Homo sapiens: one gene and its partner. The protein of the gene in region 1 interacts with the protein of each later gene in a biochemical or structural test. Each region holds a gene or a part of one and is shown in the gene's direction. Other genes may lie near its edges.

What was found.
Region 2: of the proteins of RNF126 (region 1) and G0S2, one has a biochemical effect on the other in vitro, tested with the Homo sapiens proteins (one study listed by BioGRID).

Annotation. Positions count from the first base shown.
Region 1 is NC_000019.10:647,026-653,442, reverse strand, and holds the end of RNF126 (E3 ubiquitin-protein ligase RNF126), read left to right. Parts: intron 1-558; coding exon 559-617; intron 618-1,146; coding exon 1,147-1,210; intron 1,211-1,587; coding exon 1,588-1,832; intron 1,833-3,146; coding exon 3,147-3,209; intron 3,210-3,694; coding exon 3,695-3,764; intron 3,765-4,390; coding exon of another isoform or gene 4,391-4,467; coding exon 4,468-4,561; intron 4,562-4,955; coding exon 4,956-5,071; intron 5,072-5,165; coding exon 5,166-5,315; 3' UTR 5,316-5,917; downstream 5,918-6,417. UniProt on the Homo sapiens protein: E3 ubiquitin-protein ligase that mediates ubiquitination oF target proteins. Depending on the associated E2 ligase, mediates 'Lys-27'-, 'Lys-29'-, 'Lys-48'- and/or 'Lys-63'-linked polyubiquitination of substrates.
Region 2 is NC_000001.11:209,666,067-209,681,565, forward strand, and holds G0S2 (G0/G1 switch protein 2), read left to right. Parts: upstream 1-9,345; 5' UTR 9,346-9,483; intron 9,484-9,586; 5' UTR 9,587-9,618; coding exon 9,619-9,930; 3' UTR 9,931-10,324; downstream 10,325-15,499. UniProt on the Homo sapiens protein: Promotes apoptosis by binding to BCL2, hence preventing the formation of protective BCL2-BAX heterodimers.

The DNA of each region.
Region 1 (6,417 bases):
TGTCCCTGGGCAGGGTCCTCACGTCTCCTCTGGGACATCACCATGTTGGCCTTGTGTTGTCCTTGGCTCTAGGGGGACCTGGGGATGGGGTCTTGCAGGGGTGTGGCCAGCGTGGACGTGGCCTCCCCCGAGCCAGGGGAACGGGCTGTGTGCGGGGCTGCCAGAGCGTCCTGGAAATGCCACTGTGGGGTATTGGGGCACCCCTCCGAGTGGTGCCACCTGTGTGAGGAGGTGCCCAGGCACTGGTGACGCCCGTCACGGTGGGGCAGGTCGGAGGGGCTCAGCCAAGGCGCTGATGACGCTGGTGACGCCCGTCACGGTGGGGCCAGGTCGGAGGGGCTCAGATCGCCGGGAGCCACCAAAGGGTCAGCGGGTGGCTGGCAGAGGCCAGGTCCCCTCGGCCGCCCTCCAGGACCCACGGGTTGGGAGCCACCCTGGCCTGCGTGTGCCTGGCCAGCCAGAGACCGCTGGGTCCGGAGCCCCTCTGTCCTCACACTTGGGGGGGTTTGCAGGTGATGCCGGCGTCACCGTGACCCGGCCTCCTGTTCTCTCCTGCAGGATTATATCTGTCCAAGATGCGAGTCTGGTTTTATCGAGGAGCTTCCGGAAGAGACCAGGTAATGCAGCCCCCTGTTGAAGAGGCTGGAAGAGCCAGCCGGGCCTCAGCTGTTGTAGGGGTGTGGGCTGTGCTGGCGTCCGCCCCGCCGAGTGTGGGGCCGTCAGGCCCTGGTGTCTGTGGCTCCGGGAGCACTTTTCTCTGTGCAGACAGCAGCGTGCCGTTCTCTTCTGTGATGGCCGGGCCGGGGCCAGAGGGGAGTGCCGGCAACCTGTGCAGCCGCTCACCTCCCTCAGCCTCGGCGGCTAATCTGGTGACCCAGGCCCTCCGGGGAAGGGGCCACGGGGGCCCTACCCACATTCTCACGCTTAGGAGGCTGTTGGGGTCTGCACCGGTTTATCGAGAAACCCGTGGTTTACTGGCGAGGGAAGCAGCAGCGGGTTACGGCACCAAATGCTGGGGCGGTGGCGGGTGGGAAGCAGTGCCAAGGACAATTCCTGCTCTCCCAACATAGGCTTTTGAGGGGAGGGAGCGCCTGGCGCATGGGGGCACAGGGTAGCCGGCACTGCTGACCTGCACTCTCTCCCCAGGAGCACAGAAAATGGTTCTGCCCCCTCCACAGCTCCCACAGACCAGAGCCGGCCACCGTTGGAGGTGAGTCGCCCGCCCCTCGTGCTTCCCGATCGTGTCAGCCTTGCTCGGGGCCCCGAGCGCCAGCCTGTCCCCACCTCGCCTCCCCGGCTCTCCCTGCCCGCACGGCGGAGGAAATTTTTCCCTCCAGGGGCCCGGGCCAGGGATTGGGGCGGCCCACGCTGCTTGGTTGGTTTCTTGGATGAAAGCGAAACTTCCACCGAGGCATCTCACACCAGCGGGGCAGGCTCTGCCCAATTCCTGCCTCCCTGTCTGCGTCTCCCTCCCACCCGGCACCCAGCAGGGCCCGTCTTGCTTTCTCCTTTGTCTTTGTGCCCTAGCGCCCCCAGCAGACTGCACGGGCCTGAGCCCCCGAGGTCACGCCCCCCTCCTCTCCCCAGCACGTGGACCAGCACCTGTTCACGCTGCCGCAGGGCTACGGACAGTTTGCTTTCGGCATCTTCGATGACAGCTTCGAGATCCCCACGTTCCCTCCTGGGGCGCAGGCTGACGACGGCAGGGACCCTGAGAGCCGGCGGGAGAGAGACCATCCGTCCCGGCACCGGTACGGCGCCCGACAGCCCCGCGCCCGCCTCACCACGCGGCGGGCCACCGGCCGGCACGAAGGCGTCCCCACGCTGGAAGGGTGAGGGGGCCCCGGGGGTGGCCGCGAGGGCCCCACGCCTTGAGGTCGGAAGTTCTGGCGCTTAGAATCCAGCACGGGTTCCACGGAAACGTGGCATCATCCATAGGCTCTCTGGAGAGGCCGCCCGGCCAGGCCCTCCAGCCCCCTGTGACTCCCCACACGGCCCTTCGGAGACAGAAGTATGCCGGTTCAGGGTGTGTGGGTTGACCACAGAGTGGGGCACCGTGTGCCTGCCAGGCCCACGTGCTCTGGAGACTGCTGTCCACACGCGTGTCGTCAAACGCTGTCCAGGCCTTGGGCCCAGAACAGAGCCTGGGGGAGCCGTCGCAGGGCCCCACTCCTGGTGGAACGGAGCCTGGGGGAGCCGTCGCAGGGCCCCACTCCTGGTGGAACGGAGCCTGGGGGAGCCGTCGCAGGGCCCCATTCCTGGTGGAACAGAGCCTGGGGGAGCCGTCGCTGGGCCCTGCTCCTGGTGGAACAGAGCCTGGGGGAGCCGTCGCAGGGCCCTACTCCTGGCGGTTGATGCTTTTATGGTTGTGTGTCTCACCTGCTGGAAATGTCATCTTTAAAAGTGGCTAATTTTGCCAGGCACGGTGGCTCAGTGCTGTATTTGCAGTTCTCTGGGAGGTCAAAGAGGGAGGATCTCTTGAGGACAGGAGTTTAAGACCAGCCTGAGCAATGTAGGGAGGCCCCATCTCTAATTTTTAAAAAGTAGCTGAGGCTGGGTGAGGTGGCTCACACCTGTAATCCTAGCACTTTGGGAGGCCGAGGCGGGCAGATCACTGAGGTCAGGAGTTTGAGACCAGCCTGACCAATATGATGAAACTCCGTCTCTACTAAGAATACAAAAATTAGCCAGGCATGGCGGTGGGCGCCTGTAATCCCAGCTACTCAGGAGGCTGAGGCAGGAGAATCACTTGAACCCGGGAGGCAGAGGTTGCAGTCAGCCGAGGTCGTGCCATTGCACTCCAGCCTGGGCAACAAGAGTGAAACTCTGTCTCAAAAAAAAAAAAAAAAAAAAAAAAAGTAGCCGAGAGTGGTGGACCTCTTCTGTGGTCCCAGCTACTTGGGAGGCTGAGGCGGGAGGATCGCTTAAGCCCAGCAGGTTGGGGCTGCAGTGAACCAAGATCAAGCTGCTTCTCTCCTGCCTCGGCATTAGAGTGAGACCCTGGCTCATAGTAAAATAAATAAATAGAAGCTAATCTAGAAGCTGATGCTGGCCCTGCCCTTGGTGCTCACCACGGACCTGGCAGGCCTGGCGCCTCTCCTGTGCGTGGGGCGGCCTCACCCCGTGACTGGCGCTCTCTTTTCCAGGATCATCCAGCAGCTCGTCAACGGCATCATCACGCCCGCCACCATCCCCAGCCTGGGCCCCTGGTGAGTGGGTGGGGGTGCCTGTCCCCATCCCCAGCCTGGGTCCCTGGTGAGTGGGTGGGGGTGCCTGTCCCCATCCCCAGCCAGGGTCCCTGGTGAGTAGGAGGGGGTGCCTGTCCCCATCCCCAGCCTGGGCCCCTGGTGAGTAGGAGGGGGTGCCTGTCCCCATCCCCAGCCTGGGCCCCTGGTGAGTGGGTGGGGGTGCCTGTCCCCATCCCCAGCCTGGGCCCCTGGTGAGTGGGTGGGGGTGCCTGTCCCCATCCCCAGCCAGGGTCCCTGGTGAGTAGGAGGGGGTGCCTGTTCCCATCCCCAGCCTGGGCCCCTGGTGAGTGGGTGGGGGTGCCTGTCCCCATCCCCAGCCAGGGTCCCTGGTGAGTAGGAGGGGGTGCCTGTCCCCATCCCCAGCCTGGGCCCCTGGTGAGTGGGGTGGATAGACGCACCTGCCCCAGCTGCCCGTCAGCCACTTGAACCCCACCTTCCACCTCCAGGGGAGTCCTGCACTCAAACCCTATGGACTACGCCTGGGGGGCCAACGGCCTGGATGCCATCATCACACAGGTACAGCGTGGCCACGGCCCAGAGTGCCTGCTGGGGGAGGGCTGGGCTGCCCACCCCTGGGAGCTGCCCCACTGCCTGGACCCACGAAGCCCCACAAAGGTCAAAGGGGATGCGGGCACAGCCTCCACGCTCTGGCGGGCACAGGGGGCAGCTCCGGCCTTCCTCCTGCCATTTCTGAGTCTTGGCAACTTTGGGGGTTCTCCTGTGTTCACGCGGAACGTTGTAGCAAAACCGCGGGGAGGACTCGCCCACAGTCACATGGTCAGGAGGCCACGCGGTCCCTCTTCCCGAGAGGTCGCGCCCTGACCTGCTTCCAAGTGCCACCCGTCTCAGCCTTGCTGAGGAGCCCTTGGAGCATTTTGTCACTGGCAGGACCCGACCCTCACAGTAGCCCACCAGCCGGAGCACGGCCCCCCCATTCCGCCGTCAGGGCACTCAGGAGCGCGGCCCCCCCCCCCATTCCGCTGTCAGGGACCCAGGAGCGCGGGCCTCCGCCCATTCCCCCATTCCACCGTCAGGGGACCCAGGAGCGGGGGGGCCGCGTGGGCTCCACAGTGATCTCCGACCCCGGGCGGGCTCCAAGGGGCCCAGGGCCCAGGACAAACGCGGCCTCGGTGCTTTTGCAGGTCCTGCAGCCTCGCGTTTCAGAGCCCCGGGCCGGGCCCCCGAGGAGCTCCCGGCACTCTCGCCTCTTGTCTTTCAGCTCCTCAATCAGTTTGAAAACACAGGCCCCCCACCGGCAGATAAAGAGAAAATCCAGGCCCTCCCCACCGTCCCCGTCACTGAGGAGCACGTAGGTATGAGAGCTCAGCCTCCCGAGTAGTGGGAATTACAGGCACCCGCCGCCACGCCTGGCTCATACTTGTATTTTCAGTAGAGACAGGGTTTCACCATGTTGGTCAGGCAGGTCTCGAACTCCTGACCTCAGGTGATCCTCCTGCCTCGGCCTCCCAAAGTGCTGGGATGACAGGCGTGAGCCACCGCACCCGGCCTCGAGCATTTCCCTGAAGGTGGGCTGGGAGGAGAGGGTTCTGTCCAGGTCCCCTCTGGCAGCCCGGGGGACACACACACGGCTTTTCTCCCCTCGCTGGGCTCAGGGGCGGCCTCCGGCTGAGGCTGTGGAGTAGCCTGCCCTTGAAGGCTCGGCAGGCCCCCCACGCCCGCTGTGACCGCAGCTGCACACTCCCGCAGGCTCCGGGCTCGAGTGCCCTGTGTGCAAGGACGACTACGCGCTGGGTGAGCGTGTGCGGCAGCTGCCCTGCAACCACCTGTTCCACGACGGCTGCATCGTGCCCTGGCTGGAGCAGGTGAGTGCCCCGCCCACCCGCCCCCCCACCCCGACCGCGGCCCTCCCGCCTCTAACCTGCCCCTTCTCCCGTCCCTGCCTCTGTCCCCACAAAGCACGACAGCTGCCCCGTCTGCCGAAAAAGCCTCACGGGACAGAACACGGCCACGAACCCCCCTGGCCTCACTGGGGTGAGCTTCTCCTCCTCGTCGTCATCGTCCTCCTCCAGCTCGCCCAGCAACGAGAACGCCACAAGCAACTCGTGAGCCCACGTCGGCCGTCGGGAAAGCACGGGGCCTTTCCCACCCACCCTCAGCCAGCGCCACACGGCACCCACAGACTGGGTGCCCCGGCGGCGCCACGCTTGGCTGGTCAGCGCTGCAGGTCCCGCCTGTTCCAGGGCAGGACCCGGGCCCGGCCCACCGGCCCCCTGGCTTGGGAAGGCGTGGGCCACATGGTCCCCTCTGGGGCGTCCCCAGCCTCCCCGTCCTCTGTCTAACCTCACCCTCTAAACGTTCAGCGGTGGAAAGATTTTTATAATTTTAAATTATTACTGCTTTGAAATAAACGGACGTTTGAGCTCACGTGGCGGCCATGCATGGTTTGTGGCGGAAGACGGGGCCCAGCGGCTCCCCCAGCGCTGAAGCACGGGGTTCAGCGGCTCCCCCAGTGCTGCAGGTGCCGCCAGGACGGGCCACGTGGGCCCCCAGCCTCCCCCTCGGCCGCCTCCACGACCCGGAGTAGGGGGGCTCGGGACCATGAGGATGACCAGCAAAATTCAAGAACAAAACTGCTCCAACAGACTTTTTTAAAGGAAAAAATATGTGTATCTTGAAAGCTATTTAAAATACACTACTTACAAAGAGAAGCCGGTGCTGTGGCTTTCCTTCTGCGCCCGTGCGTCAGGAAAAGGCCAAGCTGGGAGGCTGGTCGGGCTCTGCAGAGTCCGGTCCTGTCTCCAGGGGTCTGCGCCTCCTGCAGGGCTTGGCACCCAGGGCCGGCTAGCAAAACTGCTCTCCCGAAGTTAAGCCCAGGAGGGCTGCTGGCGAGGTAGCAGGGTGGCAGTGTCACTGGGTCGTGAAATTTAAAACCAGAAACACCAGCGTTAAAGCGCCAGGGCCCAGCGCCTCTGCCCCACGCTTCGGTCACACCTCAGCCACGCGGGTTCCTGGCCCCTTCTGAAAAGCCGGACCCCACTGCTCAAGGTTGCTGGATGCCTGGCCCGGGGTGCAGCCAGCTCGGGCACAGCTGGCAAGGCGTGGGGACCTGCGGGCTCAGGGGGCCGGGGCAGTGGGTTCATCTCAGTTGCTGATGATCCCACCATCCTGGGATCCAAGAATCAGACGATGGAGACAGCTAACGGAGAGG
Region 2 (15,499 bases), on another chromosome or scaffold:
CTGATGCCTGGGCCCTACTTCAGGAGATTTAACTGACCTGGAATGGGGTTGAGGAATTGGTATTTTTTTTAAGTTTCTCAAGTGATTCTAACATGTAACCAGAGTAAGAAAACATTGACGTGGGGCCTTGGAACCAGCCAGAGGGACACAGTGTTGAATGGTGAAGAACATGGACCCTGGAACCAGATTATCTGGTTTTGAGTCCCATCCCCACCACTGACTAGCCGTTTGATTCCCAGGCACTTTGCAAAAGCTTTCTGTTCTTCAATTTCCTCACCTATAAACATAGGGATATTAGTTTACCTACCTCATAGAGCTGTTTGTAGGCCTAGTAAGTTAATACATAGAAAGGTCTCAGAAGGCACACACTGAAGATGCAGTAACTTACTAAAATAGCTGTGACTATCCTATGCTCTTCTAGAGATGGAAAGGGGTGGATGGAGTCAAGGTGTCAATTTGATACAACTAACAGGACTTGCTGAAAAACTGGAAGAGGGAGATGAGAGGGGGAAAAAGGAATAAAAGATAGCTTCCATGTTTGGGGTTTTAGCAATTGGGTGGAAAGTGATGCTGTGTCCCAAGATGGGGAAGACTAGGAGGTAAACAAGTTTTGAAGAAAAAAAATCAAGAATTTCATCTGGCATGCATTAACTTAAAGACACCCTATTAGATATCCAAGAAGAGATGCAAATCAGACAATATGTAAGCCTGGAGCTCAGGAGAGAAACAAATTTCAGATTCATTAGCGTATAGAGCTGTCCTGTCCAATAGAGTAGCCACCAACCACACATAGGGGGCTATTTAATTTAAATTTAGATTAATTAAACAAAATTAAACATTCAGGCCACCAGTTTTCACCACATTTCAACTGCTTAAGAGCCTCATGTAGCTAGTGGCTACCATATTGGACAGCATAGATATGCAACGTTTCCATTGCTGCAGAAAGTTCTGTAGAGCACTGAAGGAGTCTCAAACCATGGAACTGGAGGAAGTCATCTAGGAAGTAGTCCATGATTCTGGCTACACACTAAAATCACCTCCAGGAATTCAGAGTTGATTTGTCTTGGGGAAGTCTCAGGCATTGGTAGTTTTTAATAACCCAGGACGATTGTAAAGTGGAGCCAGGGCTGAGAACAACTGACCCAGGGAAATAATGCTGGAGAAGAAAGGAATCATGGGAGGGCCTGGATTGCTGCAACAGTAGGGGCAGTGACCTCAGAACTAATCTTTCTCTAGAGCTCCTGATTCATGATTCACATACAACTATCTGATGAACATCTTTGCCTGCATGTCCCATAAACAGCCCAAACTCAATAAATCCAAGATGGAACTCATTTTTCTCACCAGAGGTGTTCTTCCTCTTCTCATTCCCACACTTGGGAGTCACCCCAGTGACTCCCAAGCCCCAAGTGACTCCTCTTCCACAGCACAAGTCTGCCAGGTTTTCTGATTTATCACTCAGTCTGTCTCTTTCTCTCCCCATTACCTCTGTTTTGGCCCAGTTCTTCATGGTCTCCTGCCTGAATTACTGTAACGACATCTCACTAGCTGCCTCTAGTTTTGCCCCTCCCTTAACCATCCTGCACTCTGCCACAGTGATCTACTTAAAATGCCAATCTTGTAGTGTTTTGCTGTGTAAAATGTATCAGTGTCTCTCATTGCCTATAGGATATAGTTCAGTCGAAGATAGATTGGTCGCTATGTATCAAACACCTCAAAGGAACTATGCACTGCCCTAGTTCTGAGAACACTGCACTGAGCAAGACAGAGAGCGCTCCTGAGTAGAACTGCAGCCCTGAAATGGGGACAGACAACAGAGTTATGAAAAGGAAAGTGAGGTGGCCATGGGAGCATGCAGCAAAGGGAACTGGCCTTATCTAGGTGACAAGAAAGGTCTTCCCTGAGGAAATGAGAGAACAGTGACACTTGGAGGATGAGTAAGAGTTCACCAGACCACAGGGGATGAAGAAAGTGCTCTCTCCACATGGAAAGAACTACATGGGGAAGAACCTGCGTCTGCAAAGGAACAGAACAGTGTGACTGGCACCCAGAGAGTGAGGGTTGAGGGATATGGGATGAAGCTGGAAAAGCAGACAAGGACAGGATGGTGGGTGGCTTATATGCCATGCAAAGAATCTGGGGCATTCCAAAGGGCAAAGTGGGGATCCACTGAATGATTTTATTTTTTTTTTATTCCACGAACTTTTTGCTAACCACTGAAGGATTTGAAAGAGAAGAGTGACATGGCCAAGTCTGCACTTTTTAAAAAGACTACACTGGCTTGAAGTGGAGTAGAGTGGCCAAAACCTGAGGCAGAGAGACCAGCTGTGAGGCCATACTAAATGGTCTGGGGGAGGCAATGAGATCTTAGACTAGAAGGGTGGCAGAGGAGATAGAAAGCAGATTGAATTAACAGATGTTTAAGAGGTAGAATGATAAGTCTTGGTGATTTTTTTTTTTTTTTTTTTTGAGACGGATTCTCGCTCTGTCGCCCCAGGCTGGAGTGCAGTGGTGCAATCTAGGCTCACTGCAAGCTCCGCCTCCCGGGTTCACGCCATTCTCCTGCCTCAGCCTCTCGAGTGGCTGGGACTACAGGCACCCGCCACCAAACCCAGCTAATTTTTTGTATTTTTAGTAGAGATGGGGTTTCACTGTGTTAGCCAGGATGGTCTTGATCTCCTGACCTCGTGATCCACCCGCCTCAGCCTCCCAAAGTGCTGGGATTACAGACGTGAGCCACAAGTCTTGGTGATTTTTCACATTGGAGAGGTGATGGAGAGCAAGGAGGAAAAGATGGCTCCTTGACTTCAAACCTGAGCTGCTAGGTGAATGGTGCAGCTTAGGTTAAGAAAGATGGTTACAAGTTTATGGGGTAGAAATATTGAATTTGGCTTTAGACACAGTAATTCTGATACCTGCAAGACATCCAAGTCAAAATGTAGAATAGGTAGAGGGATACACAGGTCTAGAGCTCAGACTTGTAGGTCATCTGTGTAGAAGCAGCAATGGAAGCCCTGGCAGTAAATTAAATCACTGAAGAGAGCATGTGGAATAAGAAAAGGGGCTCCAGGACTGAGTCCTGAGAAATGCTGACATTTGTAGGTTAGATAAAGAGGACAATTGAGATAAAGATCCTGAGTTTTGTCCAGAATAGGGTAAGAGGAAAACCAGCAGAATATGGTATCGTGGAAGCAAAGGAGAAATGTGTTTCTAGAAGGGAGTGGTCAGCAATTCCTAGGCATGGGATGAATAAGTGATTATTGATACAACTGCTTATTATCTGGCTCCTACTTACTGCTTCCTGCTCATTTTCTGCCATTTCCCAAAATCCATCCTTTATGATTTAACACCAACTTGTCTAACTTCTCTTGGACCATGTGATGCTTTATCTTTCATCCTCCCTTTTCACATGCAGTCCCATCTCATTCAAGGCCTCCCCATGCCCTGAACAACACCCTGTCCCAGAACCACCTGGTGAACACCATCCATCCTTTAACATCCCAAGCCTCTCAGGAATCATTTACCCTTAGGCCTTCTTTGACTACCTCCTCCCCAAAGGGCATCAATACCTGTCTCATTCTGTGCTTTTTGTTCATCTGGTATAAATTTCTATTACGGTGCCTTTCCCAATATACAATAATAACTCGTTTACAGTCTGTGTCCTCTACTTCACTATAAGCTTCTTGAGGGCAAATGCAGTTTGTATTCTGCATTTTTTTTTTTTTTTTGAAACAGAGTCTTGCTCTGTCACCAGGCTGGAGTACAGAGGCATGATCTCGGCTCACTGCAACCTCCACCTCCTGGGTTCAAGTGATTCTCCTGCTTCAGCCTCCCATGTAACTGGGATTACAGGCATGTGCCACCACACCCGGCTAATTTTTGTATTTTTAGTAGAGACAGGGTTTCATCATGTTGCCCAGGATGGTCTTGATCTCCCAGCCTCCTGATCCGCCCGTCTTGTCCTCCCAAAGTGCTGGGATTACAGGTGTGAGCCATCACACATTCTGCTTCCTATAACTATGCTTAACACAGTGTCAGGTACATGGCTGGCTTCAACAAATATTTTTGGACCTTACTAGAAGCTACCTAAATGTCACCTAAGGAATGCAAATGTCCCGGGCTGGGATAAAGCATCATGGAAATTGCCGACGTAGAGCAAGAGGCAAAGACAATTGAATAATAACAGCCATCATTTAATGATTGCTTCATTTGTGCCAGAAACTGCCTAAGTCCCTTACAGAGCTCTATCTCATTCACTCTTCATCATATCTGTTTCATAGGGGCTTATCATCATCACCACACCCCATTTAATAGGGGCTATCATAACTCTCACTTCACAGATACGGAAGTAGAAGTTATAGAAGTTAAGTCACTTGCCCAAGGTCAGGCCTTAGCAAATGGAGGAGTCAGGATTTGGAGGAACCCAGGTTTGCTTGACTTTAGAGCCCTATACCCTTAAGACCAATTGGCATTTGAGCTTGGGGAAAATTCCTTGTGCTGACTCAAACTTGTAAAGTATATTGTTTAATCTGGAAGTGGTATGTAGGCAGCAGGGTGCAGGTAATTCTAACCACACCACCCATGGCTATTCAAGGCTTCCAGCACAGTCTGCATGCCCCAGCAGCTGGTGGCTCTGCTTGACCAAAAGTTATGAAGGACAAAAGCAGAATGCCTATAAAGTCTGTTCCTTTGCCTTGATTTGTACCACGGGCAGGCTGGAGGGTGCCCAGAGTGAGCCAATGGCTACAATGTCAGACACTAAGTTGGGAGTGGAAGTGAAAGGTGAGGAGACCAGAGTGGAGGAAACTAAGCCAAGTTGCCAGGTCTTGGGCAATTTCAACACCAAGGCTCTGAGCCAAGGACAGGCTACTGTGCTTGAAATAACTTCCCAAGAGAGCCTTAACTGGTCACTTTGCCCTCTCTATCTCAGCACTGACTTTTAGGTCAATGTAACTAATATTGATTAGCCTCCTATTCTATGTTAACACCATGAAAGATACAAAGCTTTTGTCTTCCACAGAGCTGAGGCAAGCCCACAGGAAACAATGACAGAGTTGTACAAAACGGTAATCCATCCAGTGCCAGCCTGTAGAGTACAAGCCCCAAAGGCAACTGAAATTCACAGAAAGGAGAGATCAAGGTGTGCTGCCATGGGCAGTGGTAGCTTCTTGGAGCACAGGAAATTGAACTTGACCTCAAGGAAGAAAGGAAGACAAAGTAGAAAGAGGACAGCATTTCAGGTAGAAACAACTGTGTGAGCAAAAATAAATGAAGCAGCAGCAATGCGAATGAATTGTTTCTTGGCCTGTGAAGAAACCTCTCTGTGGAGCAAAGGGCTATTGTGGGAGAAGAACAGGAGAAGATCGGACCATAGAGAGCCTGAATTCCAAGAATACTAAATCAAGCAAATTCAACATGCAGGATCCAGGAGTCCATTATGTGGGCAATGAGAAATGATCTTGGCCTTTAAACAGGCAGTTGACAATAAAAAATTAAATTTTAGGAAGATTCATTTGGTGGTAGTGTTTAAGATGGATTAGAGGAGAAAGGATTAAAAGCAAAAAAACTGTCCCCTCAAAAACCTGAATGCTTCTTTAAGCATCTACTAAAAGTTGGACTGCATTCAAAAACAAACAAACAAACAAACAAAAAACAGTCCCTTCCCTGCCAGGCTTCACAGTCCATGGAAAAGCCATTCATTAATCCCATAGTTACCCATTAAGGACCTATTATGTGCTAAGAATTATACTGGGCACTGGGGACACAGTGAGGAGCAAACCAAAGTCCCTATCCTCATGAAGCCTATCCTCCAACGCACATGGAAGACAATATAAAACCACACCATTAAGTACATCCACATAGAATCAGGTAACCAAGTGCTATGAAGAAAAAGAAAGTAGGGCACTGGGTGGAGAGTGGTGGGATGCAGTAGTCAGGGAAGGCCTCTCCAAATAACTTCCATGATATTTCAAGCCCAGAGAACAAATGAAACGGAGATGTCACTGCTAGAAATAAGGATATTGAGAAGAAGACTTAGCTTGTAAGAGTATAGAGAAGGTAAGGAGTCTTGTTTTAAGTGTGTCAAGCTGTGATAATAGCAGTGTATCCACACAGAAATATTTAGACTCTAGAACTCTAGTCTATAAGACCAGAGGAGACAGTGGCTACACATATAAATTTCAGTGTCTTCCACTGATATCCGAGTGATAAGCAACTTCCTTTCTAAAACTATGAAAGTAACTAAGGGTCTAAAAAAAATTTCTAGTGCGGTAGTCTTAAAACTACAAATAGTTTTGTCATATCTCCTATGATGACTCCCTCCCTTCAGCTGCCTGGAGCCCCAGGGGTGGGCAGTGACTTTGTGTAGGCAGCAAGCAGCCGGTAACAAAATAATAATTATTATTGTTATTATTATATTATAATAATTGTAACAATAACAATTATTATTGAAGCTCATTTACAACTAACCATCCAAAAGACCTCTTTCCCCTGTGTCTTCAATCCCCAAGGCAGAGGGGTAGGGACAGTTCTATCCCTCCTCTGCACTTAACCCTTGAAACACATGCACCCCTTTGTGACTTTACCCTCTGCAGATGGCTCTGAATGTCTTAATGTCTGAGAGAAAGGGATTTAGAAAGCAAAATATAAAAATTTTAAACTAGTCCTTCCTACCTTCCTAGAAGTGGCAAGAGTTAAATGTTGAGATAGACTCAAGGGTAGGATGACTATTTCAGTTTGCCTGGAAGTGTTTCAGTTTGCCTGGAAGTATCTCAGTTTTAGTGCTCAGTTTTAGCAGGAGTCCTGCATTTCAGAGAACCCCTCAACCCTGAGCAAAATAAGATGGTTGGTCACCCTATGGCTTGGTTTGACCATCATCGCTATAACCTGTATCTTACCTGCATGCATGACACAACACAGTGCTTTACTTCCCTAAAAATGACATCAGCCCCACTAAAATATATGTTTAGTTTCCAAGCCCTACCTAGTCACCTTCTACCCTAGGAGCCAGGTTCTCTTTTCCCACCCAGACAGAGGAGCTGCACTCAGAAATTCCTAGACATGAGTTAACACTGGATTCCTTAGCCTTCTACTCCCATCATCTCCTGCTCAGCCCCAGCTACCACCTAAACTAGGAAGATCAAGTCTACCAGTGACCTCCGTCCATGGCACTTGCTGCCCCTCCTCTGTCCAGCTCTTACCAATATAGCTGCTGGAACCTGGAGGTCAAAGTCAAATTATCAAAAAAAGGAACTGAGCTGGTGATGTGCACTAACACAGCAAATCACAGGAAAGGGGAACCCCAGGTAAATTACAGCCTTCTGACCTAGGAAGACGTGTGGTTTGCGTCTCTGAGTTACAGAAACACAGGAAATGCTTACTGGACCAGTCAATTTCAGAATTTTGGGTCCCAAGCTAGGCTGACTCACCTTCAGAATGGAAACCACGTGACAGCCCTTATATCAGGGCACACATCACATGCTCTTCCAGAAGTCAATGGGTTTGGAACCCTCACAGATATTGGGAAAGCTCACTAATCATTTCTGCCAGTTATCAGAGGTTGCTCTGAAACTATAAGGAAGATTCAAAGAAAATGCCAAGACTGATATTAAACTTGGCAGGAACCCTTGTTACAGAATTTTCCTGCCTGACAAGGTTAAAAGAACAATAAGCAGGAAACACAGTCCTCCAGGAATAATCAATTCTATTTGGCCCCTGGTCACCTTCACTCAGACTAAATTCTAAAACATAGAATTTCAAATAAGCTATTTAGATAACCTTGACCATTCTCCACACACAAGCCCTTGCCTGAACTATTAATAGTCAAGGCAAAGGGTAGTTGTTATTGCTGCCTTTTTAAACTGAATCATCTGAGAAATTGCTTCAGACCCCCAAAGAAAGATTACTGTTAACAATTCAAAAACTAAAATATTTGATCCCTGAGACAGCCTTTTCCCCCGACCCGCCCTTCAGGGCTCAGTCCGACCGACTGCAAAGGCTGTTGCAAGATTGCATCACTGACCTTTGCAATTTTCTGGCCAGTTTGATTTCCCCTTCTTTCCCCTGCCCCCTCCCTTTCTCTGCTTAAAGGCCTTTGGCCAATTTGCCTCTCCTTTTCCCCAAGTTTGCTAACCCTTTGGCCAATTTGCCTCTCTTTTTCCCCAAGTTTGCTAACTCTAGCATATCCATAACCAAAGCCAAACTAGAACGCTCCCTCAGCCCCAGGTGATTACAGCTAACCCTGGTCAAAATCAATCCTACATCTTCACACGTCCAAGAGTACTCACACTCTGGATTCTTACCTAAGCTGTCTACTACACGCCCTTCTGCCCACAAACTGCTTCAAAGCTGAAGTTGAGCTGGAGCAGTGAAGTTGTACCCCCAAACCCAGGAGGGTGGCAGAGAATTATTGAGGAGAGCATGAAATACTTCCATTCTAAAATGGCAGATGAACTTCTACCAACAGCCCCTTCCATACTTGACCCCCTACCCCCAAGCTCCCAACTCCACTTCTCAAGTGGAAGTGAGAACAATTTGAATTTGAAGGCTCTTCCCTGATACACGGAAGTACATAAGGAAACAGCTCGCAGGCAAAGAGACTAATCTCTCTCTCTTTCTCTCTCTCTCTCTCTCTCTCTCTCTCTCTCACACACACACACACACACACACACACACCTCTGTGCATAAAAGCACCATCAATGAATAGTTTTCTATCAACTGACTCTAGTTATACATGCATGTACCTCTAAATAAAACCAACCAGGCAGGAAAGAAACAATATTAGCACATATTGCTTTATCCAAGCGTAACCTGTTCTGTCCTGTTACCCAGATCCTTCCCCCTTGCCTTCTCCTCTCTGATCCATTGCCACACACGTGGGAAGGTGACAACCCTTCCGAATAAAAATGAAAGCTTTCTTCTTTAGATGGAACCCCCAAATTCCCTCATTATTTATAATGTCAGGCTGTCCTGGACAAGGGAAGCTGTGCACCCGCTGACACCAGTAAGAAGGTTGCCGCCATGTCAGAGATGTCCGCGGACACCTCCCTGGGCTCCGGGTCCTCCCCTGCGCTCGCCTGGAGTGGGACCTTCGCGTGCACACTGGCCTTCCCACGCGCCCCGCTGCGATGGCACCCGCGCCGGGCCCCCTAGCTCACACAGTCGGAGCGTGCTCAGCGCGTGGCCACCTCCTGCCAGGTCCCAGCCGGGTTCCACCCCCTCCTTTTCCCCTCCTCTTCTTCCTCCCCCTCCGAGTTCCCCTGGCTCTGACCGCGCTGGCCTGGGCCGGAGAGCCCAGGAGGCGTGTCTCAGAGAAAAGATATAAGCGGCCCCCGGACGCTAAAGCGGTGCCAGCGGCGGAGTCTCCAACTGGGAGAGCTGCAGCTGCCGAGAGGAGGAGAACGCTGAGGTCGGTCGGACCAACGGACGCGCTGACCGCTGCCAACTGCAGCTCGCGCTGCCTCCTGCTCGCGCCGTGCCACTAAGGTAGTCCGCCTTTCTATGAGCCCTCCCCAAGATTAGCTGGGTGCGGGGTGGTGGGAGCCGTTCTTTGGTGGCTGAAGCCCCTCTCCTGCTGCTCCTCCTGCAGGTCATTCCCGCCTCCGAGAGCCCAGAGCCGAGATGGAAACGGTCCAGGAGCTGATCCCCCTGGCCAAGGAGATGATGGCCCAGAAGCGCAAGGGGAAGATGGTGAAGCTGTACGTGCTGGGCAGCGTGCTGGCCCTCTTCGGCGTGGTGCTCGGCCTGATGGAGACTGTGTGCAGCCCCTTCACGGCCGCCAGACGTCTGCGGGACCAGGAGGCAGCCGTGGCGGAGCTGCAGGCCGCCCTGGAGCGACAGGCTCTCCAGAAGCAAGCCCTGCAGGAGAAAGGCAAGCAGCAGGACACGGTCCTCGGCGGCCGGGCCCTGTCCAACCGGCAGCACGCCTCCTAGGAACTGTGGGAGACCAGCGGAGTGGGAGGGAGACGCAGTAGACAGAGACAGACCGAGAGAGGAATGGAGAGACAGAGGGGGCGCGCGCACAGGAGCCTGACTCCGCTGGGAGAGTGCAGGAGCACGTGCTGTTTTTTATTTGGACTTAACTTCAGAGAAACCGCTGACATCTAGAACTGACCTACCACAAGCATCCACCAAAGGAGTTTGGGATTGAGTTTTGCTGCTGTGCAGCACTGCATTGTCATGACATTTCCAACACTGTGTGAATTATCTAAATGCGTCTACCATTTTGCACTAGGGAGGAAGGATAAATGCTTTTTATGTTATTATTATTAATTATTACAATGACCACCATTTTGCATTTTGAAATAAAAAAACTTTTTATACCATATCTCATGTAATTCCTGAGAGGTGTGGTGTCCTGGGGTGGGAAGCAGGGAGGGTGAGCAGGTGGGCGATGGTGATGGGTTCTTACCTGAGCACTGCAGAGGGAGCAGCTTCCTGAGGGTCAGACACTTGCTTCACACCTAGGAACTGTGTAATAAGTTACTACATGCATATAAGTCTGTTGAGGACTTGTTTTTCCTTCTTGTTAGGGGTGGGAAGAGAGAAAATTTTATAACTTCCGTGAGATTTAGCATTTTAACATCAAAAGGTAGATCAACTTCTGAGCTACAGTGAGTAGGAGATAACTGATTAATTCTAAGGCAGAAAAGCTCTTTGTTCCTTACACCTGTGCACCAGAGGTTCCCATGGCTGATACCTTTTTCTTCCCAACTATATTTTAGACAGACAGACAGAGAGAAGGAAAGAAAATGAAGGAGGGAGGTCTGGAGGTGAAGGGAAGGAAAGAAAGGAAAAACTATCTACCTGGCAGGAAAAGAGATAAGCTCCCAAGAACACCAAAGCAGATGATGAGTCTAGCTCTACCCAGCCTTCCTCCCCACGAATCCAGATCATAGTAAGAAACTCTGGGCTAGAAAGAGAAAAAAACCGGTTGTTACATATCTGAGTCCTCCTCCTCCAGTGTACAGAGCTTCATCTGTAGTAATAGCTAATTCAGTGACTCTATAGGGCTCAGCAAAACAAATTTTAAACTTTAAAGAAGTAGCCAGGAGCCAGAGGCATGGCCTTGATGCTAGTCTCCTCACATTTTTCATGTCACCTGTCCTAATCAGGTACTGACACTTTACTCCTTTCATCAACAGCTATGCATTTTTGCCAAACATATCACTGGCTCACACCATTGCCTCTGCTCAGACTCTCTCCTTCGTCCAATGCCCTACACACATCTCCATTTCATTTCTGCCAACTCAATTCCTACCAAGTGTTCCTGGCCCTGATCAAAAGCCATCTCTTTCTGAAATCTATTCTTATCACTCCCAAAGGAAAAAAGCAATCAGAATGTGGTAAGATTAATCAAGGAAAAGAAACATATTTGGAGTTTTAAAGGAAAAGAATGTCAGTGGCACCATGGCTCTCCCAGTTTCCAAAATGGGAAATTCAGCCCTATACCAAGGCAGAGCCTCACTTTCAATGTCCAAGAAACTTCCTAGGAACTGACTCAATTTTATCCTTCCTGCTGGTCTTCCAAAATGCCTCTTTTATTAATTACTCCTTTACCCATTCAGTTACCACCTTGTCTGGCTCTCAACCGCTCAAGCCACCCCCTGCACCTTCTAGCACATTCACCCTAAACAATCCCTTGTCAGACTGTCTTCCTTTAATATCTTTCATTCTGCTGCTCCTGAACTCAAAAACATCTGAGACTAAAACTCTTATGCCAGGTTTCAGTGCCTCTGTGATGTGCTTCCATCACAGCTGGCCGTCTTGCCTGATTTGTCAGGGTGCCTAGCATGAACCCTGGTCCTTGCCTGTTTCCTTCTGGTTTTCTGCACCTTCATTTACATTACTCTTCCAACCCGAATTTCCAACCCGAATGTCCTCCCACCCACTACCTCCACATCTTCTGAAACCACATACCTCAAATTCTCCAAGGAAGGTATGATTTCAAATACAGGTATTTTGCCCATTGTCAAAATACATGTAAAATTGTGTGCTCTGATTTTTGAGATGGAGTCTTGCTCTGTCACCAGGCTGGAGTGCAGTGGCACAATCTTGGCTCACTGCAACCTCTGCCTCCTGGGTTCAAGCGATTCCACTGCCTCAGCCTCCCGAGTAGCTGGGACTACAGGCGTGTACCACCATGCCCAGCTAATTTTTTGTATTTTGGTAGAGATGGGGTTTCACCATGTTGGCCAGGATGGTCTCAATCTCCTGACCTCATGATCCGCCTGCCTCAGCCTCCCAAAGTACTGGGATTACATGATTTTTTATTTAGAGGGTAACGCCTATGTTTTGAAAGGTTGCCTATACATAAAAAAATAAAGTTCCCTAAATATATAAGTATGCCTATATGTTTTTGTGTAGAAGGAAATTCCCCATGCCTATTTATATTCAAATTACCCAACCCAATCAAATCCGAGCTATTGAAATCTCTGTTCTCACTGGTCTTCTCAATTCTCTGAGTTCTTATAGGCCGTACAGCCTGAATCTCATACCACATCACTCAGTAATGGGCTTTTTTTCTTCCAGTTGTTCTGTGGGCTTGGTCATGTCTCTTACAGTATAATCTTCTTGAAGTAAAGGACCATGTCTTCTTCAGTGTTCACAGAAATCATTAGGTCCTAGGCAAATAGTAGGTTCTTAATAAATACTTGATTGTTTAATCATTTATGAGGCTAGAGCAGTGATTGTAAATGAAAGGAGAAGCAATTTTGTCCCTCCAGAGAACATTTGACAGTCTAAAGACATTTCTGGTGTCTGGGTGAGGGGAGGGGGCAGGACTGCAAGCATCTAGAGGGTAGAAGTCAGTGGGCTGTTAAACATGTTCTAATGCACAGGACAGCCCCCAACACAAAGAATTCTCCATTCCAAAATGTCAATAGGGCAGAAGTTGAAAAATTCTGGGTTAGAGGAAAGTAAGGAAAAAGGATTTGCTTAATAATTTCAGAATCGAAGTTATGAGGTGGTCTCACAAGGCTCTGTCTGGTTACAATCAAACATGTTCCTCCCCCAACACAGGAACAAAAATTGTCTTTTTTCCTATGCTGCTTGGTAATTTTACCAACAACCTAGGAGAGGTAGCAGAAGGTATACTTATCAGTTCTGTTGGTGACACAGAGCTGAGACAGCACAGTCAGAACTCAAAACAACTCAATAGGCTGGAACCACGCATCGAAGAAAAACCAACTGAAACCGAATAGGGAAAAAGATACAGTACAGAATTCAGATCCAAAAAACCAATTGCACAACCACAGAATTTGAAAGACATATTCTAGCAGCAGATCATGTGAAAAAGATCTAGAGTTTTTTGAAATTTTTAATTGACTCATTATAATTGTACATATTTATGGAGTACAATTTGATGTTTCCATACATGAACACATTGTATAATGATCAAATCAAGGTATTTAGCATAGCCATTGCCTCATGCATTTATCATTTCCTTGTGGTGAGAACATTCAAAAGCTTCTCTTCTAGCTATTTTGTAATATACAATACCTTACTGTTAACCATGGTCACCCTACTGTGCAAAAGAACTCCAGAACTCTTCCTCCTAATTGAAACTTTGTACCCCTTGACCAGCCTCTCCTCATCCTCCCCTCCCCTATCTCCCCCCAAGTCTCTGTTAACCACACTGATCTACTCTATACTTCTATAAGATCAGTAAATATACACATATATATATATATTCCACATTTAAGTGAGATCATGTGCTATTGGCTATTCGTCTTTCTGTGTCTGGCTTATTTCACTTAACATAACATCCAGGTTCATCCATTTTGTCTCAGATGACAGGATATCATTGTTTTCCATCGTTGAATAGTATTCCATTGTATACATATACCACATGTTCTTTATCCTTTCATCCACTGCTGGCAACTTAGGTTGATTTCAAGTCTTGGCTATTGTAAACAGTGCTGCAACAAATATGGGAGTACAGATATCTCTATATACCCACCAGTGGGAATGCTGGATCTTATGGTGGTTTTACTTTTAATCTTTTAGGAACCTCCATGCTGTTTTCCATTCCATTAGGAGCTGTGCTAATTTACATTCCCACCAACAGGGTATAAGCATTCCCTTTTCTCTACATCCTCACCAACACTTGCTTTCTTTTGTCTTTTGGTAAGAGCTATTCTAACTATAGTGAAGTAGTATTTAATTGTGGTTTTGACTTGTATTTCCCTGGTGATCAGTGATGTTGAACATTTTTTTTTCATATGCCTGTTGGCCATTTTTATGTCTTCTTTTGAGAAATATTAAGGTATTTTGCCCATTTTTAAAATTAGGTTACTTGGGTTTCTTTTGCTGTTGGGTTGTTTGAGTTTCTTATACATTCTGGATATTAACCCTTCATCAGATATATAGTTTGCAAATATTTTCTCCCATTCTGCAGGTTGTCTCTTCACTGCTAATTGTTTCCTTTGCTGTGCACAAACTTTCCAGTTTGATGTAATCCCATTTGTCTATTTTTGCTTTGATTGCCTATGTTTCTGAGGTCTTATCTAAAACTTCTTTGCCTAGTCCAATGTCTCAAAATATTTCCCCATATCATCTTCTGGTAGTTTCATAGCTTCTGATTTTATGTTTAAATCTTTAATCCATTTTGAGTTGATTTTTATAGGTATGCGTGACGTAACAATGGGGCTACATTGTGAGAGATGCTTTACTAGGCGATTTTGTCATTTGCACAAACATCATGGAGTCTACTTAAAACATACCTAGATAGCATAGTCCACTACATACCTAGGCTATATGGTGTAGACTATTGCTCCTAGGCTATAAACCTGTATGGTATATTACTGTACTGAATATTGTAGGCAATTGTAACATAATGGTAAGCATTTGTATACCTAAACATATCTAAACATAAAAGGTACAGTAAAAATACATTATTATAATTTTATAGGACTACCATCATATATACAGTCCCTCATTGGCCAAAATGTTATGTGGCATATGACCTGATATGGTGAGAGGTCAGGATCTAGTCTTGTTCTTCTGCAGGTGGATACCAAATTTTCCCAGCACCATTTATTGAAGAGACTGTCTTTTCCCCAATGTGGGCTCTTGGCAACTTTGTTGAAAATCAGTTGGCTGTAGGTGAGTGAATTTATTTCTAAGCCCTCTATTCTGTTCCATTGGTCTATATATCTGCTTTTATGCCAGTATCATGCTGTTTTTGTTATTATAGCTTTGAAGTTTATTTTGCAGTCAAGTAGTATGATGCCTCTAGTTTTGTTCTTTTTGCTCAGACCTAAAGATTTTTGGTGGTTACAAGTTCAATAAAAGCCAACGAGGGCTTATAACAGGACTTCTAAAACAAATTAATGCTTCATTAGTAGAAGTATAATGTGCAGAAAAAGAGAAGAGCAGGTGGCTTTGTTATACTTTGCATTCTGTCAAGATGAAAAACTAAGAGTTTAAATCGGACTGCCTGGATTTGCTTGGGTTTGCATCTTGACTCTCCTATTTGTAGTTCTAAAACCTGGGAAAGTTA